Linked DNA regions of Homo sapiens: region 1 is linked to region 2. Evidence: fine-mapped expression QTL. A gene starts in region 2. The other region holds a variant in brackets. All regions are shown on one strand. Distances are between the middles of the regions. Region 1 holds the start of TRK-CTT5-1 (tRNA-Lys (anticodon CTT) 5-1). Region 2 holds the start of IL32 (interleukin 32).

Region 1 (17,069 bases), 120 kb after region 2:
ACTGTGTTCTACAGTGTAGTCCCGACACTGAAGACTCCTGGTCCTGGACTCTGCTGTAATCTAGAAATCCACTAAGGTAACGTTGGCGTGTCGCCCGGCTAGCTCAGTCGGTAGAGCATGAGACTCTTAATCTCAGGGTCGTGGGTTCGAGCCCCACGTTGGGCGATTCCTTTTTACTGCGAGCCTCACCCGCAAGGATAGCATTGTGAGTTTCTGTTCCAACTGGGTCAATTTTCTTCTCTCAGCCATCTGCCCCTGGCGATGCAAGATTTGGTGAAAGCAGATGCCTGCTCATCCCAGGAAACCATCCTGGAGTGGGGTTTCACTACTCCTGACCTCAGGTGATCTACCTGACTCAGCCTCCCAAAGTGCTGGGATTAAAGACGTGAGCCACCGCGCCTGCCCTGAATTTCCTCTTCTTGTAAGGACTCCAGTCATATTGGATTAAGGCCCATCCTAATAACCTCATTTTGTCTTAATTACCTCTTTAAATACCCAGTCTCCAAATACAGCCACATTCTGAGGGACTGAGAGTTAGAACTTCAACATATGGATGGTGGACAGTCACAACTCAGCTCATTAAAGTGAACATTGTGTACATGGTTTAGTATGAACATATGTCTTAAATTTCCTTGAGCATAGGAGTGGAATTCCACTTAGGAATGGAATTTTGGGGTCATTTGGTAGTTCTGTGTTTAACATTTTGAGGCTATTATTCACAGTGGCTGGATTATTTTATATTCCCACCAGCCTGACTGAGGGCTCGTGTCCTAGAAAAGTAGTAATAGATTTACATAGATATTTTGCATCAAAAAATATTTATTCTGAGATTATACTTAAAAACCAGGAAACAGGCTGGGCGCGGTGGCTCACGCCTGTAATCCCAGTACTTTGGGAAGTCAAGGTGGGTGGATCACGAGGTCGGGAGTTCGAGACCAGCCTGGCATGGTAAAACTTCGTCTGTACCAAAACCACAAAAATCAGCTGGGCGTGATGGTGCGCGCCTGTAGTCCCAGCTACTGGAGAGGCTGAGGCAGAAAAATCGCTTGAACCCGGAAGGTGAAGGTTGCAGTGAGCCGAGATCGCGCGCCACTGCACAGCAGCCTGGGCAACAGAGCGAGACTCCGTCTCAAAAAACAAAACAAAACACAACAAAAAACAAATGGAAACAATCTACTTGCCCCAAAATAGGGCATAGATTAAATGAAATTATCATAAATCCAAAATGGAGGATAATGTCATAAAAAATAATGTTATATAATGATGATCCCATGTGTGTAAAACTCTAGAAAATGCAAAATAATACAGTGACAGAAAGCAGAGAGTGACGGACTGCCAAAACTTACCAAATTGTACACTTTTTTTTTTTTTTAAATGGAGTCTCACTCTGTTGCCCAAGCTGGAGTGCAGTGGCGCGATCTCGGCTCACTGCAGCCTCTGCCTCCCAGGGTTAAGCGATTCTCCTGCCTCAGCCTCCCGTGTAGCTGGGAACAGGCACGTGCCATCACACCGAGCTACTTTTTGTATTTTTAGTAGAGACGAGGTTTCACCATGTTGGCCAGGCTGGTCTCCAACTTGTTAGATATGAGTTCCAAATTTCTTTTCAAAGATTCAATATGTCAGTATGTTCAATTCTTTACCTTCTACTTTTAAACTTAACTTCCTCATAAAGCAACCTTTTTCAATTACCTACTCCACCCTGACTCTTTCGATTACCTGCTCTGTAATAACCATTTTTCCCGCCAAACCATTCGCTCCGTCACTCTCTTTAAATTATCCAATGGCAATTAGTTTAGCCTGTGCGGTCTAACCCTAGCCAATAGGGGAATGACACAGCAGCAGGGGCCACGTGCGAAAGGGATAAGAACCCCTTCCCCTCCCTTGTCCAAGTGTGCTCTCACCATTGCTCCATCTGTAAGGGCGCACCCTTCTATAGAAGTACCTTGCCTTGCTGAGAATTAAAAACAAAATTTTATATTTTCGGGCTATTTCTTTTGCGGCACCGAAACTTTGTATATAACAAACTCCTGACCTCAAGTGATTCGCCCACCTCCGTCTCCTGAAGTGTTGGGATTACAGGTGTGAACCACCGTGCCGGGCCTACAACCGGCAATTCTTGATCCTTCACACCGACTCTCGCTGTCCTCCAAGATTTTTCCTCTTTACCTATAGAGTCTCCAGGACTCGATCCCCAATCCCTTGCAAGCCCTGCAGGGAAACTGGAGGGCACTGGCTTCCCCACCTTTACTCCCCACAGTTGCTCCTCAGGACCACAGGAACGGAAGGGACCAAGCCCCTAACCTAGAATGTTAGTGATTTTAGAAGGAAAAAACTTTGGGCTTATTCAGGACTAGAACCTGAGATCTCTTACGCCTTATGTGAAAAGCATGCCTGAATCAGGCTTGACGGCACATTCCTATAATCCCAGAACTTGGGTAGTCTGAGAAGGGAGGATTACTTGAGCCCAGGAGTTCAAGACCAGGCTGGGCAACCAAGAGGGACCCCATCTCTACTATTGCTACTGCTACTACAAAAAATAAATTGCCAAGAATTGTGGCTCAGCCTGTAGTCTCAGCTACCTGAGAGGCTGAAGTGGAAGGACTACTCGAGCCCAGAAGGTCGAGGCTACAGTAAGCTGTGACTGCATCACTGCACTCCAGCCTGGGTGACAAAGTGAGACTCTATCTCAAAATTTCAGAAAAAGCAAAATAGAAAAGCAGGCCTACTGATCAGTGCCTCTTTCTTTTCCTTCCTTCCTTCCTTCCTTCCTTCCTTCCTTCCTTCCTTCCTTTCTTGAAACGCAGTCTCGTTCTTGTCACCCAGGCTGGAGTGCAATGGCATGATCTTGCTTCACTGCAACCTCTGCCTCCTGGGTTCAAGCGATTCTCCTGCCTCAGCCTCCCAAGTAGCTGGTATTACAGGCGCCTGCCACCATGCCTGCCTAATTTTTGTATTTTTAGTGGAGACGGGGTTTCACCATGTTGCCCAGGCTGGTCTCGAACTCCTGATCTCAGACGATCCACCCACCTCGGCCTCCCAAAGTGCTGGGATTACAGCCTTGAGCCACTGTGCCCGGCCCAGTGCCACTTTCCTCAGTGGGCTCCAAGTGACCTTACAGCTTGACCTATCTCAGAAGGCCAGGTCTGGATTTTGAGTGGTGTTCCTTGCAGCAGCATTAAGGAGCACACCCGAGGAGTTGTGCCAATGTATTTTTCATTATAAACTATCCTAAATAGGCTGAGTGAGGTGGCTCACACCTGTAATCCCAGCGCTTTGGGAGACCAAGGCAGGCAGATCACCTGGAGGTCGAGAGTTTGCGACCAACCTGACCAACACGGAGAAACTGCATCTGTACTAAAAATACAAAATTAGCCGGGCGTGGTGGTGCATGCCTGTAATCCCAGCTACTTGGGAGGTGAAGGCAGGAAAATCGCTTCAACCCGGGAGGCGGAGGTTGTGGTGAGCCAGGAAGGTGCTATTGCACTCCAGCCTGGGCAACAAGAGCAAAACTCCATCTCAAAAAAAAAAAAAAAAAAAAAAAAACTATTCTGATAAACCGGCCGGGCGCGGTGGCTCTCGCCTGTAATCCCAGCACTTTAGGAGGCAGAGGCAGGCAGATCACCTGAGGCCAGGAGTTCGAGACCAGCCTGGCCAACATGGTGAAACCCCATGTCTACTAAAAACATACAAAAATTAGCCGGCCGTGGTGGCGCGTTCCTGCAATCATAGCTACTCAAGGGAGGCTGAGCAGGAGAATTCCTTGAACCCGGGAGGCAGAGGTTGCAGTGAGCGGATATCCCATCACCACACTCCAGCCTGCGTGACAGAGCGAGACTCATCTCAATCAGTAAATCAATCAGTCAATAAACCTCACTGCCCCAGGAATGCCGACACCAAGTCAAGCAGACCTTCTCTTCCCTGCCGTCCGCTTCCCTGACCTGCTGGGGTTGGGAGGGCACATTCTGTGGCAGGTTGACTGGGTTTCCATGTTTCCATCCCAGCTCCTCAATTTTGTCTGAAAATGCAATAATAAGAGTATAGTAGTGAAGATTAAACGAGTTTAGATAAGTAAAGAGCTTACAAGAGTGTTAGGCATGGTGAGCCTAATAAGCATTAGCTACGTCTACTGCTAATGTTGAACATCCTAATCTCTGCCCCCTGGGTCACCGTCACCAGCCTCACAACTCTGCAAGCAGGTACCAGCAGCACCACGCTGGCCGTACAAGCAGAGATCCAGTGAAATCTTGTATGCACCCAGAGGGTCCGGGTGGAGGGAGGTTGGGTAACTCAGGAGACCACAGCTGCTCCCTCCGGCTGCACTGGGCACTTCTGGGAGGATCCGGCACCCACCTCCCTGGGCTGGAGGCCTCTAATCAGAGAGGAAGGCAGGAAAGCCAGACACTGGGACTGTCAAACTAGTGAACATTGGGATCTCTATCCCCCTCTACTTGATGGGACCTGAGTCAAACTCTACCTGACATGACCCCCTGGGGATCAGCATCTGGGCAGTGTTGCTGGACAAGGGTGGAGCCAGGCATAAGGACGATGGGAGATAAGCAGAGAAAGGTTTTGTAGGTGGCTCCTTGTCCAGGCTATGATTGTTGCTTAGGGTACAAGAGAGTCCAATCCTGTACAAGCTAAGGTTCTCAGACTTTCTTCTGTTTTAATGAGGACAGCCCTGTTGGGATCCCAGAAAAGGAAAACCCTAGTGGGGGTCTTCCCCAGGGCCTCTGCTATCAAGGAGCGAGGAATTACTGTTCTCCTGGTCTTCCAGGTAGGAACCGCATCCATGGGGCAGGAGCCAGGATGGCTTTCTGGAATAAGCAGGGGAGGGCATAACCAGACATTGGTCACTTTAAATCTTCTGCTTGAGTTTCTTCTTTCACCAAGTCTTGCATTGCCAGGGGCAGAAAGCTGGGAGAAAAAGATGTACCTTCATGGTACAGCAAAAGGCACGCCCAACGTGCGGCTCGAACCCACGACCCTGAGATTAAGAGTCTCATGCTCTATCGACTGAGCTAGCCGGGCTTCCTTATAGGATCTTTTCCATATCTACAAATGGGCCGAGTGGCCTAAGGGTGGTGGAAACAAAGGGAGGTAATGAATCACCCCGGGAAACCAGGGCGCGCTTGGGGTCCCCCACAACAGACTCAGTTCGCCACCGACGTCCCCGCTAGTGCAGGATTTCCCTCACCACCCCGCAATCTCCCATAAATGGGGGTGACCTGCCAGAGTCTCCTTCGTCACCGCGCCGGCATATATCTGTGTTCTCCCAGTCCGTGCCCTCCTCTGAAAAGGCCTTCTTTCAGAAAGAGAAAAAACATTCTCAGACTGCGACTGCACGCACTTAAAGAGTCAATGACAACCTTGGCAACCCTTTTTTTTTTTTTTTTTTTTTTTTTGAGGCCACTTGAGTTACAGGGACAGGAGAGTTCTGCTGTGTATGGGCCATCCTTGCAGCTGCAGACAGAAAGCCCAAAGCTCACTGGGACTCACAGAAGCCCTCGCAGGTGCTGCTCCGCACTGTAACCTACTGTGGCGTGCATCTAGTTGTTCCCTTTCCATTACCGTGTGCTTCTATATCTAGAACTATTTGGTTCTTTTTTCAATCAAGAAGGTTGGAGGTCCTGATGTCAAAGATATTTTCTTTATTGCCTTTCATTTCTTTAGACACAGTAGGGACAGTTGTATTATAAGTCGGATACACTTTGCATCTGAAATATTTGCAATATTGTTTCTGTTCCTGTTAATGAGTTGTTGCTCCTGGTACCTTCTTTCCTTGTTAATTTTTAGGGTGCAATGTCCATTTTCCTTGCAAATTTCTTTGTGTAGGAAATTCTGTGAGATCTGGAATACAAATGTATTTGTCCACACACACACAAAATTATTGTTTGCTTCTGCAGGGGCTCAAGGGCATAACCAGACATTGGTCACTTTAAATCTGCTTGAGTTTCTTTCCACTTGGTCCTCAAGCGCTCAAAATTGGATTAGTCACGACTCTTGGTTCCCGGCATGTTCTCAAACCCAGCATCCCAAACAAAAAGGAAGACTCTGCCAATAGATTCTGTCCTCAGAGTAGATGTGAGGAGGCCCCAGTCCTGGTGGGCGCTGGGACTCAGGACGCAGATACCCGGGTTCCTGGGTTCAGTCTGTACCCCTTCCAGAACTAGGATAGGGGAGGAGAGGAGCCCCAGAAGGCTACACGCAGGTGAGGAGTGTCGGGATGTGGGGAGGGAGAGGACTCTAGACCCCAGATACAAACGCCCATAGCCCATCTCCTCTGCTCAAGTGCCCGGCTTTCTCTCCTTAAGGCTCTAGCCGCCGGAGCCAGGGACACTGGGTGGGAATCCCAGTGTAGAGCTTTTAAGGTGTCTGACAGTGAAGACTCGGCTCTTACTGTATATAGGAAGGACTTATCTCTTCTTCAGTGCCTCGAATGAATTCCTACTGACAAAAGTAGCTCATAAATAAAAATAATAATAAAAGCAGAAAACAAAAATAGCAAAATATCAAACAAAAATATTAGGGAATAGGGCTCTGACGACAGTGGTGAGAAAACTCCAAATAAATTTTAAATGTGGCAGTGGGTGGTGTCAGACAGCTTTAGATCTTTGTACAAATTAACTTCGAAGTCTGAGCGCGGTGGCTGACGCCTGTAATCCTAGCACTTTGGGAGGCCGAGGCGGGCTGATCACCTGAAGTAAGGAGTTGGAGACCAGCCTGGCCAACATGGCGAAACCCTGTCTCTACTAAAAAAAAAGTACAAAAATTAGCCAGACATGGTGGCACGTGCCTGTAGTCCCAGCTACCTGGGAGACTGAGGCAGGAGAATTGCTTGAACCCAGGAGGCGGAGGTTGCAGTGAGGTGAGATAGCACCACTGCACTCCAGCCGGGGCGACAGAGACTCTGTCTCAAAACAAACAAACAAACTAACTTCGAAGGACTCGGGCTGCGCTGACCTGTCAGAGCTGTCTGGATCTCTGATCTTCATCTAAAGTAGGAAAGGGTAGAAACCGATATTTTGGACCAAAAACCGGGCTCGTCCGGGATTTGAACCCGGGACCTCTCGCACCCTAAGCGAGAATCATACCCCTAGACCAACGAGCCACACGCCCCGTAGCCTCCGGCTTGTCTTTGTGGCCTTCGTGGAGTCCTCGTGGCCAGAGGTGGGGACCCAGCAGAGCAGAGCTAGGAGGAGACTCCGATTTCCTGAAGTCTGGAAGAGACAAGTTCAAGCGCGGGTGGACGCGGAGGGAGCCCTGAGCCCCCGCTTCTCCCTGCGCCGCACAAAATGGGGAGCATCCCCTGTGCCCCCACAATCCGGGGCCCCCCGGGCCCTCGCCCGCCTCCGCCTCTCAGCCCTGGGCTGGGGATCCGCGCGTCACGCCGCGTCGCGTAGTGAGGAGCTCCAGCTCCGGCGGGACATGGGAACCTCTCAAGAGCTGGCAGCGGCTGCGCGGAGGGTCCGCGAACCGCGACCACTGGACGCCCGCCTTGGAAACGCTGCAGCCCGGCGGCGTGGTGCAGATGGGTGGTCAGTAGAGGCCTCGCCAGTGCACCAGGAACCAGCCACCAGGCCCCCTACCTCGACGCGCCCCACGCTTCTCCCGCTCCGGTCCTCTCTTCTCCCCCAGGGAAGCCAAAACCCAGAAGGTGAGCTTCCCACGTGGAACCTCAATTCAAGAGGCTGACACTGAGCGTCGCTTCGCTCCACCAGACCCGCGGCGCCCGCCGGAGTCAGCGATGTACCCCCTTCCCTTTCACTGGGGGAACTGGCGGAACCTCCGGTCACCAGGACGTGGGGAAGCAGAGGCCGCTTGGGGCAGCAGAGGCCGCGTCCAGGTGTCGGTTCCGGGGCACCTTTTACTGTCACTCTGTCCTTCTCTGTGTCCAAATTTCACCCGGAGCCCGAGAATTCGGCAGGTCTGGACTGAAAACGTCTCCCCATCCCCTCCGGATCCAAGCCTCGAATTTCCTGGCTCAGTGGGAAGGCCTCGGGGTCTGGGCGTGGAGACGGGGCCCGAGACCCCCACCCCGCCAGGGCCCACTAAAGTGCTGCCAGCTGAGCCCCGGCCTTCGCCCCTCCTTCGTCTCTCCCTCATTCCCCTCCCTCTGACACCCCGCCACATACATTACTCCCCGCAATACCATGCAATTTTAAGCTAGGGTAGGGCTCACCTGAGACTGGAGCCGCCATACCGTCGAACCCTACGAAAAATTTATGCCCGTAAATAAACAAGCCCGGCGCATTCTTCCTTATTCTAAATAACTTCTTCCTGCTGCACGGGGTCGTCTCCTTTAACCACGGCTACCGCAGTTGGTAGTGCTGGATCCCATTTCAGGGTGATGGGATGCTGGATCCCATTTCAGGGTGATAGGACCGACCGCAAGGCGAACGATTCAGGCCCGTCCGTCTGCGTCCCGGGACCCCGGGAGGTCTCCACTGACGCCCTGCCAGCAGCAGGCTCCCTCCGCCTTCCTAGTCTCCTGTCCTTGCTGAAAATGCGAAATGGGAAAAAAGAGAAGGAAAAGGGGGCTCGTCCGGGATTTGAACCCGGGACCTCTCGCACCCAAAGCGAGAATCATACCCCTAGACCAACGAGCCGCCGCT[T/TC]CCCCTCTGTTTTGTTGTTGTTGTTGTTGTTTTTTGACACGTCCTTCCGCCCCTGACGCAGAGCGAGACTCTCTCCATCGCCCCAATAGCTCAGTCCTTAGCGCGCGCACCTGCGAATCTGGGCTTTTGGGTTCGCGGCCACCCTCAGATTTGCGAGGCAGGCTTTACTGCTGCTGGATAAACCAACCAGGTTATCCGTTGAGGTTATGAGCTGGTGGTTTCAATGTCGTCCTGATATGAAATATAAGTGCATTTGCCTATCACTAAGGTAAAAGGATTTCCAGGCAGGATAGTGATGTCAGAAATCACAAAGGAAATGTACAGATTTTACCCAAGTTTTTAAAACGGCAAATGACAATCCAAAGAAAATACAATCTGAATGACAAATCAAGGGCTTATTACCGGGCTTCATAGTTTTGTTTTGTTTTGTTTTGTTTTGAGACACAGTTTCGCTCTTGTTGCCCAGGCTGGAGTGCAGTGGCACAATCTCGGCTCACTGCAACCTCCGCCTCCTGGGTTCAAGCAATTCTCCTGCCTCAGCCTCCCGAGTAGCTGGAACTACAGGCTTGAGTCACCACGCCCAGCTGATTTTTGTATTTTTAGTAGAGACGGGGGTCTCACCATGTTGGCCAGGCTGGTTTTGAACTCCTGACCTCAAGTGATCTACCCACCTCGGCCTCCCAAAGTGCTGGGATTACAGGTGTGAGTTTGAGACCAGCCTGGGCAACATAGTGAGACCTCGTTCGTACAAAAAAATAAAAATAAAAAAATTAGTCGACAAGACATGGCGGCTCACTACTGTAATCCCAGCACTTTGGGAGGCCGAGGTGGGCAGATAACCTGAGGTCAGGAGTTCCAGAGCAGCCTGGCCAATATGGTGAAACCCCATCTCTACAAAAATATGAAAATCAGCCAGACCTGGTGGCAAACAGCTGTAATCCCAGCTACTCAGGAGACTGAGGCAGGAGAATTGCTTGAACCTGAGAGGCGGAGGTTGCAGTGAGCCAAGATCATGCCACTGCATTCCAGCCTAGGCGACAGAGCAAAACTCCGTCTCAAAAAAAAAAAAAAAAAAAAAAAGTTAGTTGAGTGTGGTGGCAATCACCCATAGTCCCAGCTACTCAGGAGGCTGAAGTAGGAGGATCTCTTGAGCCCTGGAGGTGGAGGCTTGCAGTGAGCCATGTTCATGCCACTGTCCTCCAGCCTGGGTAACAAACCCTGTCTCAAAATTATAATAATAATAATAATTTGGATCTTGGATAGAGGCATACACAAAGGGAAGATGGTATGAAGGCCCAGGGAGAAGATGGCTGTCCCCAAGCCAAGGAAGGAGGTCTCAGCACCAACCAACCCTGCCCATACTTAGTCTCAGACTCCAGCCTCCAGAATAGTGAGAAAATAAATTTCTGTTATTTCATCCACTCAGCCTATGGTACTGTTATGGCGACCCTAGCAAACTAATACAGTATTATTCAATAATACTAAATATTATTCTGTCATAATTAGGAATGAATTATTGACATATGCAACAAGGATGAACCTTGAATACATTATGTTAAGTGAGAGAAGCCAGACATGAAAGACTGCTATTGTATAATTCCATTTATATCAAATGTAGAGAACAGGCAAATGCGTGGAGACAGAAAGCATACTAGTGGTTGCCAGAAGATTGGAGGAGGGAGGAACAGGGAGGACTGCTAATGGGTACTGCATCTGTTTTGGGCTGATGAAAACATTCTAGAACTAGATAGTAGTGACTGTTGCACAATCACATGAATATATAAAAACCACTCAATTACACACTTTAGTGAATTTTATGGTATGTGTAGTATATCTCAATTATCAATATACTGAGTCAAAGCATATGCCAAAATTGGAGAATTCAGACATATAGCTATTCCCCACTGGCTTCTGTGGTAAGGCTATGAGATAAACTAGGCCTAGAATGGAATTGATGCAGCGGGCAGTTCAGAAAGTGGGGAAAGAAACTTTGCTAGTGAGGTGAGTGGTTTTTCATGTTTATTGGCCATCTGTGTGTGTGTGTGTATGTGTGTGTGTGTTTGCTTTCCTTTTTCTGTGAATTACCTGTTGGTGTGCAAAGACAGCTGTTTACGTGGTTCTCTAGCCAGACTTTCCAGGGCACTTCCTGGCTGTGTGAACTTGAACTAATTCCTTAACCTTTCCAGGGCTCCAGTTGTGTCATCTGTAGACATGAAGATAATGGTGTACTCCTCGTGCATCTGCTGAAAACAACATGAGGCTGGGTGCAATGGCTCACGCCTGTAATCCCAGCACTTTGGGAGGCTGAGGCAGGCGGATCACCTGAGGTCAGGAGTTTGACACCAGCCTGACCAAAACAGAGAAACCCCGTCTCTACTAAAAATACAACAATTAGCCTGGCATGGTGGCACACGCCTGTAATCCCAACTACTTGGGAGGCTGAGGCAGGAGAATCTCTTGAACCCAGGAGGCAGAGGTTGCGGTGAGCCAAGATCACCCCATTGCACTCCAGCCCGGGGAAAAAGAGCAAAACTCCGTCTCAAAAAAAGAAAGAAAGAAAACAGCATGAGTTAGTTCATGGAAACCAGCAGAGTCTAGTCCCTATTCAGTAACTGACGAGAATGAGCAGTTGGACTCTATTCTGTTTCCTTTTTTTTTTTCTTTCTTTCTTTTTTTTTAGACAGGGTCTCACCCTGTCAGGCTGAAGGGCAGTGGCGCAGTCTGGGCTCACTCTAAACTCCATCTCCCGGGTTCAAGCGATTCTCGTGCCTCAGCTTCCTGAGTAGCTGGGACTACAGGCACGCGCCACCATACCAGGCTGATTTTTGTATTTTTAGTAGAGACAGCGGTCTGGCATGTTGGCCAGGCTGGTTTCGCATTCCTGGCTTCAAGTGATCACCCGCCTTGGCCTCCCAAAGTGCTGGGAATACCGGCGGGAGGTACCGCGCCCAGCCTCCTTCACTTTTCTGTGACTTCCAGAGCAGACAATACATAAGACACCGGGAGAGATGCCTGCAGGTGAGTAGACAGGGTTCTCCTTGGCTTCCTTTGAGTCTCAAGGAAGTCACTGAAGCAGCGGGCCCAGCTGCCTTTTACGCCTCACGCCAGCCTCCAGACACACCCATTGCACCATGTACTGCTACTTGGCAAACTTTGTCACGGAAATCCAATGTTTCCAGTTTCTGGGTCCCGAAACTCTTCCCATGCAAGCTCTAGGACAATCTCTTTTTCTCCAGTCTCCACTTCAAGGCTCAGTTGTTTTCCACCTATGGCCCTTAGGGCCAGCCCGAGGCTACACTTGCCAGCCAGAGAGGCTGCGGCAAGCAGCGTTTATGCTCCATAGTCCCAGGTGAGGAAGACGAAGCCTTTTTTGTCATAGATCTTCATTTCTTTTCTTAAATGTCTTTTAAAAATATGCCTATGTAATTTTTTAAAGGATTCGAAATCTATGTAGCCCAGTAATAAGCCCTTAGTTTGTAACTTCGATTGTATTTTCTTTGGATTATCATTTGCCGTTTTAAAACCTTGGATAAAATCTGTGTATTTCCTTTATGATTTCTGACATCTCTATCCTGCCTGGAAATCCTTTTACCTTAGTAATAGGCAAATGCACCTATATATCATACCAGCACGACATTGAAACCACCAGCTCATAACCTCAGCGGGTAACCTTGTTGGTTTACCCAGCAGGAGTAAAGCCTGCCTCGGAAATCTGAGGGTGGCCGCGAACCCACAAGTCAAGATTCGCAGGTGCGCGCGCTAAGGACTGAGCTATTGGGGCGATGGAGAGAGTCTCGCTCTGCGTCAGGGACGGAAGGACGTGTCCCCCACCAGAAAAAGGAAAAAAAAAAAAAAAAAAAGAAAAAAGAAAAAAGGAAGCGGCGGCTCGTTGGTCTAGGGGTATGATTCTCGCTTTGGGTGCGAGAGGTCCCGGGTTCAAATCCCGGACGAGCCCCCTTTTCCTTCTCTTTTTTCCCATTTCGCATTTTCAGCAAGGACAGGAGACTAGGAAGGCGGAGGGAGGCTGCTATTGGCAGGGCCTCAGTGGAGACCTCCCGGGGTCCCGGGACGCAGACGGACGGGCCTGAATCGCTCGCCTTGGTGAAATGGGATCCAGCGCTGCCAACTGCGGCAACTGCGGTTAAAGGAGACGACCCCGTGCAGCAGGAGGAGGTTATTTAGAATAAGGAAGAATGCGCCGGGCTCATTGGTCGCTACAGGGGCATAAATTTTTTCTAGGATTCCAGAGTATGGCTGCTCCAGTCCCAGGTGAGCCCTCCTCCGCTTAAAATTCCAGTTTATTCGGAGAAGGGGAGAATACCGGAAGCGGGGGAGAAGGGAGGGGAGTGAGTGAGAGGAGGGAGGCGGGGAAGACCGGGCATCCGCGGGCAGCACTTCAGTCGGCCCTGGCGGGGTGGGGGTCTCGGCCCTTGTCCCCACCCCCAGACCCCGGGGCCTTCCCACTGAGAGCGAGGGAATTCGCGGCTTTGATCTGGAGGGGACAGGGAGCCCCTTTTAGCCCAGATCTGCTGGATTCTCGGGAGTCAGGTGAAATCTGGATACAGGGAAGGGCAGAGTGACAGTAAAGGGTGCCCCGGAACCGATGCCCGACGCCTGCTGCCCCACGGCCTTCATTCTTGCTCCTCCTCACGTCCTGGGGACTGGAGGTCCCGCCAGCTCCCCCCAGTGAAGGGCAAGGGGGCGCATCGCAGAATCGCCCCTGGTGCGCAGCGTAGTTGGTGGCCTAAGCCGTCTTCTCCGAGAGCTCAGCCATCCTGGGCACTTGAGGCCAGGCAGGCGCTGCGGGGCTGGTTCAGTCGATGGAGAAAAGAGACTCTCAGCGTCAGCCTTTAGGGTTCGAGGCCCACGTGGGAAACTCGCTTTCTGGGTTTTGGCTTCCCTGGGGAGAAGGGAGGACCGGAGCCGGAGAAGCGTGAGGTGCGGCGAGGTAGGGTGCCTGGTAGCTGGTGTCTCGTGCACTCCGTCAGGCCTTTATTGAACACCCATTGGTGCCACGCTGAGGGACTGCAGCGTTTCCAAGGCGAGCTTGCAGTGATCGAGGCTCGCAGACCCTCAGCGCAGCCGCTGCCTGCTATTGGGAGGTTCCCATGTCCTGCGGAAGCTGGAGCTCCTCACTGCGCGCCTCGGAGACGCCGAATCCCCAACTCAAGGCCGAGTGGCGGTGGCGGGCGAGGACCCAGGGCCCTTCTGGATTGTGGTAGCGCCAGGGCTGCTCCCCATTTTGTGCGTCGCGGAGGAGGGGCCGGGGCTCTGGGCTTCCGCCACACCCATCCTCACTTGAAATTGCCCCTTCCAGGCGGGTCTGAAATAAGATTCTACTCACTGGGTCCTGCTGGGTCCGCCCCAGCCGCCCCCAGGATGCTAGGACGCCCACAAAGATAACCTTAATGCGTAAATCGTGTGGCTCGTTGGTCTAGGGGTATGATTCTCGCTTAGGGTGCGAGAGGTCCCGGGTTCAAATCCCGGACGAGCCCGGCTTTTGGTGCAGGGTAAAAGTCGTTTCCTGCTCTTTTTTAGATTCGGCTCGACTTACAGACCTCAGCGCAGGACGTGGACGCCCTGCAAAGGTAATTTGTACAAAGGTCTCAAGCTATGTTGACGCCGCCTACTATCCCACTACCTCTTCTTAAAATTCATCTAGAGTCCTGTCACCAGTGTTGCCAGAGCCCTTTTGACAAGCTATTTTTTTTGTCGTTTGTTTGGTTTTTGGTGGTTTTTGTTTTGTTTTGTTTTGTTTTTTGTTACTTCTGGCAGTGCAAACTCGAGGCACCGAAGAAGAGACAAGTCCCTATATACAATAAGAGCCGAATCTTCACAGTCAGACGCCTTAAAAGGTCCAGCCTGGGACTCCCACCCACTATCCCCGGTTCTAGCAGTCGCAGTCTTAATGAGAGAGTGAGCCAGGCACTCGAGCAGTGGAGATAGGCTATGGGTGTTTGCGTCTGGGGTCCAGAGACCTCTCCCTCCCCACATCCCGTCACTCCTCACCTGCGTGTAGCCTCTTGGGGCTCCTCTGCTCCCCTGTCCTGGTTTTGGAAGGAGTACGGACTGAACCCTGGAACCCGGGTACCCCGTCCTGAGTCCCAGCGCCCACCAGGACTGGGGCCTCCTCTGGTCTACTCTGAGGACAGATTCTATTGGCAGGGACTTCATTTTTGTTTGGGACGCTGGGTTTGAGAACGTGCTATGAATCAAGAATCAAAGAAATTTACAAGGAAAATGGACCCAGCACAAGGAGGCAGGGAGGCAGGGCTCACGCCTGCAATCCCAGCACTTTGGGAGGCTGAGGCAGGTTAATCACCTGATGTCAGGAGATTGAGACCATCCTGGCCAACATGGTAAAACCCTGTCTCTACTGAAAATACAAAAATTAGTCGGTCATGGTGGCGGGCGCCTGTAATCCCAGGTACTAGGAAGGATGAGGCAGGAGAATCGCTTGAACCCCGGAGATGGGGGTTGCAGTGAGCTGAAATGGCGCCAGTGCACTCCAGCCTGGGTGACAAGGTAAGACTCTATCTAAAAAAAAAAAAAAAAAAAGACCGCAAAACAAGGTATCATGAACAACAAGTCATCAACAGTAGGCAACAGAAACAAAATTGCAAACATTTTGGATGCAGACTATTGGGAAGTCTGTAATACAATTATCCTTAGGAAAGGCAATAAAGAAAATATCTTTGACAACGGGACCTATGTAAAATGCTCTCCTTTGAACCTTCTAGATTGAAAAAACAACCAAATAGTTCTAGATATAAAAGCACACAGTAATGGAAACGGAACAGCTACATGCACGTCACAGTAGGTTACAGTGCGGAGCGACACCTGCGAGGACTTCTGTGAGCTCCCAGTGAGCTTCAGACATTCTGTCTGCAGCTCCAAAGATGGGTTAATTTGCCCGATACACAGCAGAACTCTCCTGTTCCTGTAATTCGAGTGGCCTCCAAAAAGAGGTTGTCGTTGACTCTTTTAGGTGCGTGCAGTGTGGGTATGTTTTTTCTCTTTCTGAAAGGAGGACATTTCAGCGGACGGCAGAGAATACAGATTTATGCCAGCGCCCTGCGGAAGGAGCCTCTGGCGGGTCATCTCCATTTATGGGAGATCGCAGAGCGGTGAGCAAAGTCTTGCACCAGCGGGGATGTCGGGGTGGAACTGAACCTGTTGTAGGGGACCCCCAGTGTGCCCTGGTTTCTGGGGCTGATTCATTACGTCACTTAGTTTCTACTATTCTCATGCCACCCCGCCAATTACTAGACATAAAACGTTCCCAGGGAAGCCCGGCTAGCTCAGTCGGTAGAGCATGGGACTCTTAATCTCAGGGTCGTGGGTTCGAGCCCCACGTTGGGCGACTTGTTTTCTTCCTTGCTACCTTGGAGTTCTGGAAACAGCCAGCATTTAATGAACACTACCAGGTGCCACATCGCGCTCTGTGATGGTATCCCCTCAATGATTGAATTTTGGTCTCCGCGCGCTCCCAGCAGCAAGGATTGTCAGTGAAATGACCAAAGGCAGCACCGGGACGGGCTGGTTGCCAGCCAGGGGCAGAGGGGCGGGGGCGGGTGAGAACTGAGGGGCCACAGGATGGGTGTGAGGGGTGCAGGGGCCTCTCCCCACTTTGTGCGGTGCGGAGAGGGGCCGGGGCGCTGGCCCACCCACTGAGTCTGCAATCCCAGTCTCCTGTCACTTTGCTTTCGCAGGCTTGAGCTTTATCGCTCCAAGTACTCCACGGCTGCCACAAAGAAAAGTAAAGGGCCTGCTGCTGTGGCTCGTTGGTCTAGGGGTATGATTCTCGCTTAGGATGCGAGAGGTCCCGGGTTCAAATCCCGGACGAGCCCCTCTTCTTATTTTTGAGACAGAGTCTCGCTCGGTCGCCCAGGCTGGAGTGCAGTGGCGCTATCTCAACTCGGTTGAAGCTCCTTCTCCTGGGTTCACGCCATTCTCCTGCCTCAGCCTCCTGAGTAGCTGGGACTACAGGTGCCCGCCACCACGCCCGATTAATTTTTTGTATTTTTAGTAGAGATGGGGTTTCACCGTGTTAGCCAGGATGGTCTTGATCTGACCTCGTGATCCGCCCGCCTCGGCCTCCCAAAGTGCGGGGATGACAGGCGTGAGCCACTGCGCCCGGCCAACAGCCATGCACTTTCAAGGGCTCAAGTCCAGGGTTTACTCCAGTGAGACTCAACCCCTCGGTCCTGGATTTCTCTGCTTCAATTTATAAAATATAAAGTTACTGGGGGAATTTAGAATATGGATTGTATATTAGATCGCCTTGTCGCATGAGTGTCTGAGGTCCCGGAAGCCTCATTGGTGGGATGAGTATCTTGAGCAGCTCCAACACTGCTGAATTTTTACCACTAGGTAAATGACAGTCACAGCGGATTCCAGGGGTTGTGTCCACGATCCCGGGGGGCGTCGGCTTTGAGCAGCCTCAAGGGGAGGGTT
Region 2 (14,524 bases):
GGTATCGTTTAAAAATGGCATGGTCTCATAATCAAAATGTAAAACTTTTGTGCTTCAAAGGACATCATCCAGAAAGTTGGAAAGAGGCTGGGCACAGTGGCTCACGCCTATAATCCGAATAGTTTGGGAGGCCAAAGTGGGAGGATGGCTTGATCGCAGGGTTTCAAGACCAGCCTGGGCAACATAGTGAGACCTTGTCTCTACAAAATAATCAAAAAATTAGCCGGGCATGGTGGCAACCCGTGTCTGTATTCCCAGCTACTTGGAAGGCGAAGAGGAGAGAATCACCTGAAGCCGGGAAGTCTTGGCAACAATGAGCCATGATCACGCCACTGCACTCCACCCTGGGCAACAGGTGTGTCTCAAAAAAATAAAAATAAAAATAAAATTGGCTGGGCACGGTTGCTTATGCCTGTAATCCCGCATTTCGGGAGGCTGATGCAGACGTTTGAGAGGCAGATGTCACTTGAGTTTGAGAGTTTTAGACCAACTGGCCAACATGGTGAAACCCTGTCTCTACTAAAAATACAAAAATTAGCCAGGCGTGGTGGCGCATGCCTGTAATCCCAGCTACTTGAGAGGCTGAGGCAGGAAAATCGCTTGAACCCAGAAGTTGGAGGTTGCAGTGAGCCGAGATCGTGCCTCTGCACACCAGCCTGGGAGACCAAGCGAGATTGCATCAAATAAAAAAAAAAAAGAAACACAAAAATTGTCACATGGTACCATTTCAGCGCACTAAGATGGCTAGAATTAAAAAGACACAGAGCATAACAAATGTATCTGGGGATGTGGAGAAACAGGAACCCCCGGGCACTGCTGCTGGGAATGTAAAATGACAGACAATTTGAAACATAGTCTGGCTGTTCCTCAGAAGGATAAAAACACATTTGCCATGTAACCCAGCTATTCTTCTCCTTCATACGTATCCAAGAGAAGTGAAAACATAAGTCTGCACAGAAACTTTTGCGTGAATGTTCACAGCAGCGTTATTCAGAATAGCAAAAAAGGGGAAAGAACCCCAACTTCCTTTGAGGGGTGAATGGAGAAACCAAATGTGGTCTATCCACACAGTAGAATATCATTCAGCCAGAAGAAGGAATGAAGGACTGATCCGTGTTACAACACAGATGAACCTCAAGAACAGCATGTTCCGTGAAAGAAGCTAGACACAGAAGATCACGTAGTGTATAATTCTACTTATAAGAAATCTCTGGGAGAGATGCATCCATTGAGAGAGAAAGTAGATAAGCCCAGACGCAGTGGCTCATGCCAGTAATCTCAGCATTTTGGGAGGCCAAGGCGGGCAGATCACTTGAGGTCAGGAGTTCGAGACTCCTTGGCCAACATGGTGAAATCCCATCTCTCCTAAAAATACAGAAATTAGGCCAGGCTGAGTGGCAGAACAAGACTCCACCTCAAAAAAAAAAAAAAAAAAAATTGTCACGTGATACCATTTCAGCCCATTGGGATGGCTGGAATTGAAAAGACACAGAGAATAACAAGTATTGCTGAGGTTGTAGAGACACGGGAACCCTCGCACACTGCTGCTGGGAATGTAAAATGACAGACATTTTGAAAAATAGTCTGGCTGTTCCTCAAAAGGATAAAAACACATTTACCATGTAACCCAGCTATTCTTCTGCTTCATACATATGAAGTGAAAACATACGTCTGCACAGAAACTTGTACGTGAATGTTCATAGCAGCATTATTCGGAATTAGCCAAAAAGTGGAAAGAACCCAAATGTCCTTCGAGGGGTGAATGGAGAAACCAAATGTGGTCTATCCACACAGTAGAATATTATTCAGCCAGAAAAAGGAATGAAGGAATAATGCGTGTTACAACACGGATGAACCTCAAGAATAGCATGTTCAGTGAAAGAAGCTAGACACAGAAGATCACCTAGTGTATAATTCTACTTATAGGAAATGTCTGGGAGAGAGGCATCCATTGAGAGAGAAAGTAGATGAGGCCAGACACAGTGGCTCATGCCTGTAATCCCAGCACTTTGGGAGGCCAAGGCGGGCAGATCACTTGAGGTCAGGAGTTCGAGACTCCTTCATCAACATGGTGAAACCCCGTCTCTACTAAAAATACAAAAATTAGCTGGGTGTGGTGGCACGTGCCTGTAATCCCAGCTACTCGGGAGGCTGAGTCAGGAGAATTGCTTGAACCCAGGAGGCAGAGGTTGCAGTGAGCCGAGATCGTGCCACTGCCCTTCAGCCTAGACAACAGAGCGAGACTCTAAGAAAAAAAAAGAAAAAGAAAAAGTAGATGAGTGGTTATCCAGGGAAATGAGGACTGGCAGTGATGTCTCAGAAGGGCAGAATTTCTCTTAGAGGTGATAAAAATGTTCTAAAATGGGTTGTGGTGATAGCTGCACAGTTCTGTGCTTTGAATTGTACAGCTCAATGAGTGAATTGCATTGCCTGTAAATTGCATCACCATAAAGCTATAAAAACAGGGTACATACAGTCTGGGTGGATCCCAAGATGTCTTCAGATGGTGGCCTTTGAGAGTCATGAGGGGCTAGGGTTGGAGCTGAAGCCTAAAGCATGACTTTTAGCTGGTGCAGGAGTGGCTTCCTTCTGTCTCCCACTACAATTCAGAGGATACTCAGGGAAAGATCTGGACATCCTGTATGTGGAAAGGCGGTTGCGCACAGTGGAATGGACTCCTAAGTGGCAGGCAGGTGACAACCGTTGTCTACTTCACCCAAGGGAAGATTTCTCCATGGAGCGTGTTTTATAGGTTCTGTCTCTCCGAGTCCCCTTTGAGAATATAATGGGATACATTGCATCCATGCTGAATTCCTAAGCCCCAGGACCTCAGAATATGCCCTTATTTGGAAACAGGGTCTTTATGGAGGTACTTAAGGTACAATGAGGTCACTGGGGTGGATCCTACTTCTTTTTTTTTTTTTTCCGAGGGGAATTTTCATTGTTGTCCCCCAGACTGGAGTGCAGTGGCACCATCTCAGCTCACTGCAACATTCGCCTCCCGGGTTCAAGTGATTCTCCTGCCTCAGCCTCCCGAGTAGCTGGGAATACAGGTGCCGGCCACCACGCAAGGCTAATTTTTGTATTTTTAGTAGAGACAAGGTTTCACCATGTTGGCCAGGCTGGTCTAGAACTCCTGACCTTAGGTGATCTGCCCGCCTCGGCCTCCCAAAGTGTTGGGATTACAGGCGTGACCCACTGCGCCCGGCCTAGGGTGGACCCTATTTCAATATGACTGGTGTCCTTTGGAAAGGGGAAAGGGGGACAGTCACACCCAGGCAGAACGTGATGAAGATGAAGATGGCCATCTACAAGGGCAGGAGAAACCTGAACAGAATCCCAGCTCCGGGCCCTCAGAAGGACCCCACGCTGCCCACATTGACCTTGGACCTCCAGCCTGCAGATCGTGAGGGAAGAGACGTCTTCGACTTAGGGCCCCTTGTCGTGGTACTTCCTTAGTTTGGCCCCAGGAAACCATCCCAAAGGCAAGGGCGTGGTTGTGCTCAGCTGGGGGAAGGGGGCTGGGGGCCGTGAGGAGGAGGTGGGAGGCCCAGCCAGGCTGGAGGGTCAGAACCCGTGGAGCTAGAAGAGCCCGTAGGGGAGCCCCAAGATTGCTGAGACCAGTGACCTTCGGCCCCAGATGGCCTTGCCTTGGCCCAGAAGGGTCAGAAGGACCTGGTCAGCCAAGCTCAGACAGCCGGCAGGATGCCTTCCACCCTGCAGAGGGTCCTATCTTGTCCCACAGGTAGATCTACATCACCACTAGCCACCCCTCCAACGTGCACAGGCCCCTGCCCTCACGGCGCCCCTCTTAGGTCCGGCAGTTCCTGCCTCCTTCTGATCCAGAAGTTTCTCTGGCCTCTGGAGCCGGGGCACACCTCATGCAAGGACAGGGTCCAAATTCCTTTGTCCTTGGATCCCACTTGGCTGACGTCACCTTCCTGTACTCAGGGAGTTTCCCCAGCCAGCTGTCCCGAGTCTGGACTTTCCCTCTGCCCCTCCCCACTCTCAGGCTGGTGGGGTGGGGAAAGCAGCCCATTCCTGGGCTCAGAGACTCCCACCCCAGCTCAGAGGGAGCAGGGGCCCAGCCAGGGACGGACCCTCATTCCTCCCAGGGACCCCAGACCTCTGTCTCTCTCGGGTAAGTCTCCATCTCTGTCTGTCTCTGTCTCTGTCTCTGTCTCTGTCTGTTTTTCACGCACTCAGCAAGGCCTCCTGCCCTGAGAGAGGCTCCGCCCACTACCCCCCACTTTCCCCATAAAACCAGCTGAGTATTTGTGCCAGGAAGACTGCGTGCAGAAGGTGACTGTCTCAGTGGAGCTGGGTCATCTCAGGTGGGGAGTTGGGGTCCCCGAAGGTGAGGACCCTCTGGGGAGGAGGGTGCTTCTCTGAGACACTTTCTTTTCCTCACACCTGTTCCTCGCCAGCAGGCCTTGGCTCCTTGAACTTTTGGCCGCCATGTGCTTCCCGAAGGTGAGTGAGAGGCTGCGTGTGCTTTTGTGGGCATGTCTGAAAACAGACCGTAAGGGTGCGGGTGCCCTCAGTATTTCCCGAGGTGCCTGTGTGTCAGGGCTCAGTCAGGGGCACCCAGCGGCAGGAGGATAGTGATGGGGTGAGAGTGTCAGTGGAGGCGCTGGAGGTCATATGTGTCGGGGGCGCTGGAGAACGGCAGGGGTGTGGATGAGAGGGAGCACCTGTCCCAGGAGCCCTTCACAGCCCGGAAAGCCCGGGGCAGGGGTGGGGCAGGGCTCTGCTGGAAACGACTCGGAGAATGCTTCTCTCAGAGGCCGGCTCAGCTGGGTGGGCCCAAGAGCAAGGCCTGTGTGGGTCCTGGTGTCTCTTCCTCCTTTCCTGGGTTCCCTCCGACCTCCCATCCTCTACCACTGCCCCACCGCAAATGCTAGGCCCACCACACCCTCCAGGGAGCTCTTCGGCCTGTGACAATAGGGGTTTCCATGATGTGGCCTGGCTCAGGTTCAGGACAGTGACCCGGAGGACACATGGCTCCCGCATGTCGGCACGGTGCTGCTTTCACCCTGGTTCCTGGGAAATCAGGCTAGCGGGATGGGACCATCGCTGCCTGAAAGTGTGCAGACAGCTGCCCTGCCCAGAATATGTCCCCAGGCCCTGCGCACTCTGTGGGTGACTGTCACCACTCTATAGTGGGGGAAACCAGGCATGTCACCCCCGAGACTAGGCCCTTGACGTGGGGGCTCAGCGGGGATTCTGTGGGGTGCCTCTGGCCTCTGTGGATGCAGCCACGTGTCTGCAGGCAGGAATGGCCCGGGACCTGTGGGTCTGCATGTTGGCAGTCGGGAAGAGTGGCAGGTTGTAGGGTGGACCTACCTGGCACCCCAAATATTAATCAGCTCATCAGAGAGGAATGGCTGCTGTTACCTTCTCAATTGTCATGTCCCTAAACATTTTTTCCTTGGCCAACTCTCACCTGGGACCATAGTGGTTGTGGGAAACCCAGCTGAGCCAGCCTGCTCCAGGACAGTGTCCATCCTCCCGTGTGTGTACATGGGGGGGTGTGTGTGTGCAGGGAGGACACCCCGGCCCACGCAGGCCCTGCTCTTGTGAGGAGGGGTCACCTAGGCCCACGCAGGCCCTGCTCTTGTGAGGAGGGGTCACCTAGGCCCACGCAGGCCCTGCTCTTGTGAGGAGGGGTCACCTAGGCCCACGCAGGCCCTGCTCTTGTGAGGAGGGGTCACCTAGGCCCACGCAGGCCCTGCTCTTGTGAGGAGGGGTCACCTAGGCCCATGCTGGCCCTGCTCTTGGGCCTGCCCAGCTGAGCCGGCTCCTGAGAGAAGCGCTTTCTGAGTCGTTTCGAGGACAGCCCTGGCCGGTCTTTCCAGGCTGTGAGGGGCTCCTGGGACTGCTGTCTCCTCTTATCCTGTACCTCTGCCATGTGTCTCTGTGTGTGTGTGTGTGTGTGTGTGTGTGTGTGTGTGTGTATAAATTATCCTGGAGGAAAGGTTAAGGTGACACATGGAGACTGAGTGTCACCGTTATTTCCGCAGGTCCTCTCTGATGACATGAAGAAGCTGAAGGCCCGAATGGTAATGCTCCTCCCTACTTCTGCTCAGGGGTTGGGGGCCTGGGTCTCAGCGTGTGACACTGAGGACACTGTGGGACACCTGGGACCCTGGAGGGACAAGGATCCGGCCCTTTGGTGCCAACTCTGCCTCTCTTCACAGCACCAGGCCATAGAAAGATTTTATGATAAAATGCAAAATGCAGAATCAGGACGTGGACAGGTGGGTGGATTTCCCCTCAGGCACCAGGTCACATGTCCCCGCCCCCAGGCACTCCACCCTGTGTGGGGCTCAGGGTGAGAAGGATGAAGAGGGACCCACAGGCTCCCTCACCCCTTACCGTGGGCAAATGCTTGCACCTGGGTGGCAGTGAGTGGGCGGGTGGGGGATCTGGACGCCCGGGGAGACTGAGGGAGGCATCCAAGCCCCAGGGCTCCTTGAGGAAACAACAGGGGTGCCAGACGTGGCCCGGGCCCCTGGCTGGGCCCAGTTCGGGGTGTGTGGGAGCTGAGGACTCACTGGGCTTGAGGACTGACTGATGTGGGGTGCAGAGGAGGCTTGGGCCTGGAACCGAGTGCTTTGTTCCTAACAGGTGATGTCGAGCCTGGCAGAGCTGGAGGTGAGCCGTGGCCTCCCCCTCCACCAAGCTTAGTCCCTGGGTCTTAGGCTCCACAGGACACTGGGTCTGGGCCCCGGGTCCCCTTGGGAATCACCTGGACCAGTGGGGGCCACAGTGGGAAGGGGGCAGGCAGGAGCAGCATGAACCCCCTGTGCCCTCCTCTCCCCAGGACGACTTCAAAGAGGGCTACCTGGAGACAGTGGCGGCTTATTATGAGGAGCAGCACCCAGTGAGTATGACACACCCATCTGGGCACCTTGCCTTCCTTCACCTCTGCCCTGTCTTTTCTTTCTTTCTTTCTTTTTGTTTATTTGAGACAGAGTCTCGCTCTGTCGCCCAGGCTGGAGTGCAGTGGCATGATCTTGGCTCACTGCAACCTCCAAATCTCGGGTTTAAGTGATTCTCCTGCCTCAGCCTGACAAGTAGTTGGGACTACAGGCACCCGCCACCACTCCAGGCTGATTTTTTTTGTGTGTGTTTTTAGTAGAGACCAGGTTTCACCATGTTTGCCAGGCTGGTCTTGAACTCCTAACCTTGTGTTCCGTCTGCCTTGGCCTCCCAAAGTGCTGAGATTACAGGCATGAGCCACCGGGCCCAGCCAACCCCTGCCCTGTCTTGATGTGGTGTGGGCAGGGTGTGCCCAGCCCCTGAGCTTGGGGTGGAGGGCTGGGAGTGACAGCCTAGCTGGGACCTGCCCATGGCCTCACTCCTCACACAGTGGCACAGCCCTCAAGGCACGATGAGGGCCCTGACCTGGTGACCAAGCAGACACACCCATCCTGTCACTGCCATGGAGGTGAATGCAGAGGAGGGGGACTCTGGGAAAAGTCCCTCTTGCCCACGGGGCTGTGGTTGGGAAACCAACACCTGTGGGCCTCCGTCTCCCAGGGTCAGGAAAAGGCTGAGAGGCCTGGGTGTGGCCAGGGCCTGGGGCTGACACCCCCACCTACAGACCCTGAATGGTGCTCCCATTCCACAGGAGCTCACTCCTCTACTTGAAAAAGAAAGAGATGGATTACGGTGCCGAGGCAACAGATCCCCTGTCCCGGATGTTGAGGATCCCGCAACCGAGGAGCCTGGGGAGAGCTTTTGTGACAAGGTCATGAGATGGTTCCAGGCCATGCTGCAGCGGCTGCAGACCTGGTGGCACGGGGTTCTGGCCTGGGTGAAGGAGAAGGTGGTGGCCCTGGTCCATGCAGTGCAGGCCCTCTGGAAACAGTTCCAGAGTTTCTGCTGCTCTCTGTCAGAGCTCTTCATGTCCTCTTTCCAGTCCTACGGAGCCCCACGGGGGGACAAGGAGGAGCTGACACCCCAGAAGTGCTCTGAACCCCAATCCTCAAAATGAAGATACTGACACCACCTTTGCCCTCCCCGTCACCGCGCACCCACCCTGACCCCTCCCTCAGCTGTCCTGTGCCCCGCCCTCTCCCGCACACTCAGTCCCCCTGCCTGGCGTTCCTGCCGCAGCTCTGACCTGGTGCTGTCGCCCTGGCATCTTAATAAAACCTGCTTATACTTCCCTGGCAGGGGAGATACCATGATCGCGGAGGTGGGTTTCCCAGGGCAAGGCTGATCTGTTGCCGTATTAGTCCGTTTTCACACAGCTATAAAGAATGCCTGAGACTGGGTGATGTATAAAGAAAAGAAGTTTAACTGACTCACAGTTCCACATGGCTGGGGAAGCCTGAGGAAGCTTACAATCATGGGGGAAGGCGGAAGAGAAGCAAGGCACGTCCTACATGGCAGCAGGAGAAGCAGGGTGGGGGGAACTACCAAACACTTTTGTCCGCGTGTTTGTGTGTTTTTTTTATTTGAGATGGAGTTTCGCTCTTGTCGCCCAGGCTGGAGTGCAATGGGGTGATCTCGGCTCACTGCAACCTCTGTCTCTCTGGTTCAAGTGATTCTCCTGCCTCAGCCTGCTGAGTAGCTGGGGTTACAGGCATGCGCCACCATACCAGGCTAATTTTGTATTTTTAGTACAGATGCGGCTTCACCATGTTGGCCAGGCTGGTCTTGAACTCCTGACCTCAGGTGATCCGCCCACCTCGGCCTCCCAAAGTGCTGGGATTACAGGCATGAGCCACCACACCCGGCTGCCAAACACTTTTAACCCACCAGATCTTGTGAGAACTCACTCACTTACACCAGAAGCGCATGGGGGAAACCGCCCCCATGATGCAATCATCTCCAGCCCGGCCCCTCCCTCGACATGTGGGGATTACAGTTTGAGATGATTGGGGTAAGGACACAGAGAAAATCATCTCATTCTGCCCCTGGACCCTCCCAAACCTCATGTCCTTCTCACATTTCAAAACTCAATCATGCCTTCCCAACAGTCCCCCAAAGTCTAAACTCATTCCAACATCAACCCAAAAGGCCAATCCAAAGTCTCACCTGAGACAAGGCAAGTCTCTTCTGCCTATAAGCCTGTAAATTCAAAAGCAAGTTAGTTACTTCCAAGACACATTGTGGGTACAGGCATTGGGTAAATGTTCCCTTTCCAAATTGGAGAAATTGGCCAAAAAAGGGGGCTACAGGCCTCAGGCAAGACCCAAATCCACCAGGGCAGTCATTAAATCTTAAAGCTCCCAAGCGATCTCTTTGGCTCCATGTCTCATGTCCAGGGCTCACTGATGCAAGGGGTGGGTTCCCAGGGCCTGGGGCAGCTCCGCCCCTGTGGCTCTGCAGGGTGCAGCCCCCGCAGCTGCTTTCATGGGCTGGTGCTGAGTGCCTGCGGCTTTTCCAGGCACACAGAGCAAGCGCTTGGTGGATCTACCATTCTGGGGTCTGGAGGAGAGTGGTCTTCTCACAGCTCCACTAGGCAGTGCCCCAGTAGAGAGTCTGTGTGGGGGCTCCAACCCCACATTTCCTCTCTGCATTGCCCCAGTAGCCGTTCTCCATGACAACCTGTGCGTGGTCATCCAGGCATTTCCATCCATCCCCTGAAATCTAGGCGGAGGCCCCCAAAGCCCAGCTCTTGTCTTCTGCAGACCTGCAGGCCCAACACCATGTGGAAGCTGCCAAGGCTTGGGACTTGCACCTTCTGGAGCGACGGCCTGAGCTGTACCTTGGTCTTCTTTAGCCACAGCTGGAGCTGGAGTGGCTGGGGCACAGGGTGCCATGTCCCGAGGCTGCACAGAGCAGCGGGGCCCTAGGCCTAGCTTGAATTAATCCCCAGGAAATGGGTTTTCTTTTCTACCACATGGTCAGGCTGCAAATTTTCCATCTTTTATGCTCTGCTTCCCTTTTAAGTATAAGTTCTAATTCCAAAGCATCTCTTTGTGAGTGCATGTAACCGTATGCTTTCAAGAAAAGACAGGTGACTTGCTGAATGCTTTGGTGCTTAGAAATTTCTACTGCTGGCGGAGTGCAGTGGCTCATGTCTGTAATCCCAGCACTTTGGGAGGCCGAGGCCGGCAGATCACGAAGTCAGGATGTCGAGACCATCCCGGCCAACATGGTGAAACACTATCTGGACTAAAAATGCAAAAATTAGCTAGGCATGGTGGCACACGCCTGTAATCCCAGCTACTTGGGAGGTTGAGGCAGGAGAACCACTTGAACCAGGGAGTCCAAGGTTACAGTGGGCCAAGATTGCGCCACTGTACTCCAGCCTGGTGAAGGACCAAGACTCCATCTCAAACAAACAAACAAAAAAAACAAGGGACAGGTTCTTGCTATGTTGCTGAGGCTGCAGTGCAGTGGTGCAATCATAGGTCACTGCTATGGATGGATGGACAGATGCGTGCACAGAGGCAGGGATGGATGGACAGATGCATGCACAAACACGCTGAGCGCCTACTAGCACAAGACAAGACATACAGGGTTCTGCTCTCCCCAGGTACACAGGGTTGAGATCCAATGGGAAAGCAGTGAGCCAGCTGAGTCAGGGGTACGAGGAGACACTGAGCAGAGAAATAACCCGGGACATCTGAGGCCAGAAGCCAAAACTATGGCATCAGTAGGGAGACTGCAGAAGGCGGCAGGTCCCGGATCACCAAGGGCCTTGAAAGCATGTGGAAGACTTTGATCAATGGGGGAATCATTAAGGCATTTTGCATTCCGGAACTATCATCAGCTTCAGCAGGGGGCAGGGGGTAGGATAGAGGCAGGGAGGCAGGAAGTTCTCGCAGGGTCCAGGCAAGAGATGGTGGAGTGTGGTCCTGGGGAAGGGGGCAGTGGACGGATCTGAGGGAGGTTCAGTTAGGATGGGCAAGGATTGAGATCTGGCTGGATCCTGGTGACAGGGGAGATGAGGCTGGGGCCCTTGGAGGATGGTGTCCTGGTGCTGTTAATGCAGGTGTGAGAGTGGGAGGAGGAGGAGCAGGCTGGCAGAAGGCAGGCATGAGTACAGGTCTGGGCGGGAGTCTGCAGCGCTCTGGGCTGGCCACACGGGTGGGGCAAGGGAGGTGGAGGATCCTGCCCTAGAGCTTGGTCTCCTCTGTCTGAGGTCAGGTTCCCCAGAGGTGGGGCTCCAGAGGGAAATTCTTGTGCAAGCAGTTTCTCAGGGGCCATGTGCTGAGGGGAATGGGGAGCAGGAACAGCCTAGAAGCTGAGTGAGGATGTGGTCTCAGCTGGAGAGGAGGCTGATCGCATGGGAGCTCTGCAGCAGGGATGGCAATGCCGGGGAGGCCGTCCCGCCTGAGGCCAGGCCCAGCTCTTTGCAGCCCCATATTAACTACATTGGCTGCTGGGGAGCCTGAGTGACGGGGGAAGGGGGCAGCCAGGGAGGGTGCCTAGGCCCTGTGGAGGGCTTGGTAAGGCAGAGGCTGGGGAGGCTGTGTGCCTCAACATTCACATATGGGCTTCGGATGGGCGTGGTGGCACATGCTTGTAGTCCCAGCTACTCAGGAGGCTAAGGCAGGAGGATTGCTTGAGTCAGGGAGGTTGAGACTGCAATGAGCTGTGTTCACACCACTGCACTGCGGCCTGGGTGACAAAGTGAGACCCTGTCACACACACAGAAAAAGAGAATGTGGGCTTCAAAGTTGAATTCAAGTAAGTCAGGGTTCTTCCACTTGTAATGAACAACTTCCTTAACCTCATTGTCTCAGGTTCCTCCCCTGAGAAATGCGAGGAGAACGGCGCCTGCTGGTGGCGGGGGCTTGCCGATGAAATGAGCCATTCACCCATGCCTCTCAGCACAGGGCCTGCCCTGGGCCGCATACTGTGCATTGTCAGCTGCTGTCGGAGCTGGGCTAGTGGCCGCCTTGAGAGCCAGCAGTCCACGGGGGTTGGCGAGCTTCTGGGAGGAAAGGGTGGAACGTGACTGTCAGGTACAGAGCTACAGAGAACCCCAGCATGAAGGAGTAGGTGGCAGGGGAGAAGGACTCAACAGAGATGGAGAAAGACTAAGCCCAAAGGTGATCAACAACAAGAGTGAAGGAGGAAGTGGTCAGCTGTGGCTGGGGCAAAACAAGCCCAGTAAGTTACATTGGCCTGTGTTTGGTCATCCAGGGACAAAGTGACCTTTTTAGTGCCGGTAGGCCCAGTGGGTTGGGGAAGAATTTAGGCGGCAGTGGGCTTAGGCATGAGAGGAGCGGAGGAAGAGAAGATTGAGTTGAGACCACTGGCTGGAGAACTTGACCAGGAAGGGAGGGCAGAGAGCGGCGTGGAGTCGGGGGAGGGAATAGGTCCAATGAGCGTCTTAGGATGAAGGAGTTGTGAGCACTCAGCACAGGATAAGCTGATACAAAGAAAGGGATGGAGGATGGATAGACTGACAGATGCATGCACAGAGGCAGGGTTGGATAGCATGACAGATGCATGCACAGAGGCAGGGATGGATAGATGGACAGAGGCATGCACAGAGAGAGGGATGGATAGATGGACAGATGCATGCACAGAGGCAGGGATGGATGGATGGACAGATGCATGCACAGAGGCAGGAATGGAGAGACAGATGAGTGCAAACAGGTAGGGATGGATGGACAGGTGCCTACACAGAGGCAGGGATGAATGGATAGATGGATGCACAGGGGCAGGGATGGATGGATGGACAGATGCATGCACAGAGGCAGGGATGTATGGACGGATGCATGGGCAGAGGCAAGGATGAATGGATGGATAGATGCATGCACAGAGGCAGGGATGGACAGACAGATGAATGCACAGAGGCAGGGATGTACAGAAGGATGCATGCACAGAGGCAGGGATGGACGGAGGGACAGATGCAGGCACAGAGGCAGGGATGGATGGACAGACAGATGCATACACAGAGGCAGGGATAGATGGACAGATACTGGCACAGAGGCAGGGATGGATGGACAGATGCAGGCACAGAGGCAGGGACAGACAGACAGATGCATGCACAGAGGCGTGTATGAATGGTTGGAAGGATGCATGCACAGAGGCAGTGATGGATGGGTGGGGAGATTGGATGGATAGATGCCGGTAGGTCGTTCTTGTCCTGGAGGAGGTGATCCAGGCTAAGTCCTCACACCGGGAGGGGCAGGAGGCGAGCATGGGGAGATACAGCTGTGTGTCCCAGTGCACTGGAAGTTACAGATGACATCGATGTCCTGTCCTGATGAAACAGGAAACACAATTGTCATTTGAAAGTTAGGGCTGAGGGCCGGGCGCGGTGGCTCACACCTGTAATCCCAGCATTTTGGGAGGCTGAGGCGGGGGGGTCACCTGAGGTCAGGAGTTCGAGACCAGCCTGGCCAACATGGTGAAATCCCGTCCCTACTAAAAATGCAAAAATTAGCTGGGTGTGTTGGTGGGGCGCCTGTAATCCCAGATACTCAGGAGGCTGAGGCAGGAGAATCACTTGAACCTGGGAGGCAGAGGTTGCAGTGAGCTGAGATCACGCCATTGCACTCCAGCCTGGGTGACAGAGGAAGACACCGTCTCAAAAAAAAAAAAAAAAAGAGACAGAAAAGAAAGTTGGGGGCCGGGGCTGGATGAAAGCTTGAGGGGCTGTGGGCCTGGCATGGGGCTGAGGGGAGTGTGCAGGAGCTGCCTGCCAAAGCCTGGGGCAAGGATGATAGGAGGTGCTGGGGCCCCTGTGGACTGCCCTCTGAGAATCTCGTGAGGCTGGGTCTGCACAGCTGTGGTTGTGTAACTTCCCCCAGATGCATGGTGTGACAAGGGTGCAGGAAGGGGTGCAGGGCCCGGAAGCTCAGTGTGGTTAAAGACATGCAAGGCAGGATAGAAGGTGAGAGATGAATGATATGGCCGTGATCAAAACACCAAACTTCAGTTTCTCAGAAAAAGGACTCAGAGCAACAAGAGAACCTACAGTCAACAAGGACATTCATCAGCGCACATGTGATTTGAGCAAGACCATTGAAGCCCCTGCTGAACGGCAGGCTGGCAGAGCCAGGGTACCTGGCCATCTACCTTGAAGTCTCTGTGCCTCAGTTTCCTCCTCTGTAAAATGGACATAGGGGACAGGTTTGGTGAGAAGTGAATGAAAACGTGTTTGCTACCCCTCTTAGGACTCATGTTTCATGCTTAGATGCTCAGCTAGTGGTTTTAGGGACCGAGAGAAATTTGCTTTTCAGTTCACCAGGTCGTTACCTATGAACCTGCCCTGAGCAGTGCTGACCTTAGTTAGAGATGGCCATGAAACTCATCCGCATGGGGTAATTGGGGCCTCCCTGTGGTGCTGCAGGGCTATGTCTCTGTCTTGGTCTCTTCAGGCCTCTCAGCAGCTGGAGCAGGAGCTGGCAGGCAGCTCACCGATGGATAAGGAGCTGGGCTTTGGCCAGGGCTGACATGGGAAGCGTCTCGGTCCTGCCGGTCCTGGCGCCTGAGCTGAATCCGGAGGGAAGAGGCTGCTGTGGTGGGAACAGGCTGGGAGCCAGGCCTGGCGCTGGGGCCGGCAGGCTGTGTTCTGAGAGTGCCTGCTAGAGGAGCTCTG

The links.
Region 1: its variant is fine-mapped to the expression of IL32 in whole blood (INTERVAL, PIP above 0.99).

The regions. Positions count from the first base shown.
Region 1 is chr16:3,175,599-3,192,667 of GRCh38, forward strand. TRK-CTT5-1 (tRNA-Lys (anticodon CTT) 5-1) reads right to left here and starts at 5,028; the gene lies at 4,956-5,028. It overlaps TRP-AGG2-7 (tRNA-Pro (anticodon AGG) 2-7), which reads right to left and starts at 7,108; the gene lies at 7,037-7,108. TRP-TGG3-4 (tRNA-Pro (anticodon TGG) 3-4) reads right to left here and starts at 8,606; the gene lies at 8,535-8,606. It overlaps OR1F1 (olfactory receptor family 1 subfamily F member 1), which reads left to right and starts at 12,606. Exons shown (of 4, transcript NM_001370640.6): 1 at 12,606-12,881; 2 at 14,151-14,200; 3 at 15,640-15,739. It also overlaps TRK-CTT2-5, TRP-TGG3-5, TRP-AGG2-8, TRK-CTT4-1 and TRP-AGG1-1. RefSeq lists enhancers at 1-347, 271-320, 6,858-6,967, 7,538-7,797 and silencers at 61-160, 7,348-7,417, 8,798-8,857, 14,005-14,164, 16,185-16,554. The variant T/TC (reference allele first, on the strand shown) is at 8,613.
Region 2 is chr16:3,061,354-3,075,877 of GRCh38, forward strand. It overlaps IL32 (interleukin 32), which reads left to right and starts at 4,287. Exons shown (of 7, transcript NM_001376923.1): 1 at 4,287-4,334; 2 at 4,431-4,473; 3 at 6,024-6,062; 4 at 6,201-6,260; 5 at 6,631-6,657; 6 at 6,827-6,886; 7 at 7,637-8,177. The coding sequence starts at 4,459. The coding sequence ends at 8,002. It also overlaps the pseudogene RNU1-125P and the pseudogene LOC107984896. RefSeq lists enhancers at 3,781-4,090, 6,429-6,948, 13,529-13,648, 13,719-13,808, 13,929-13,978 and a silencer at 13,165-13,348.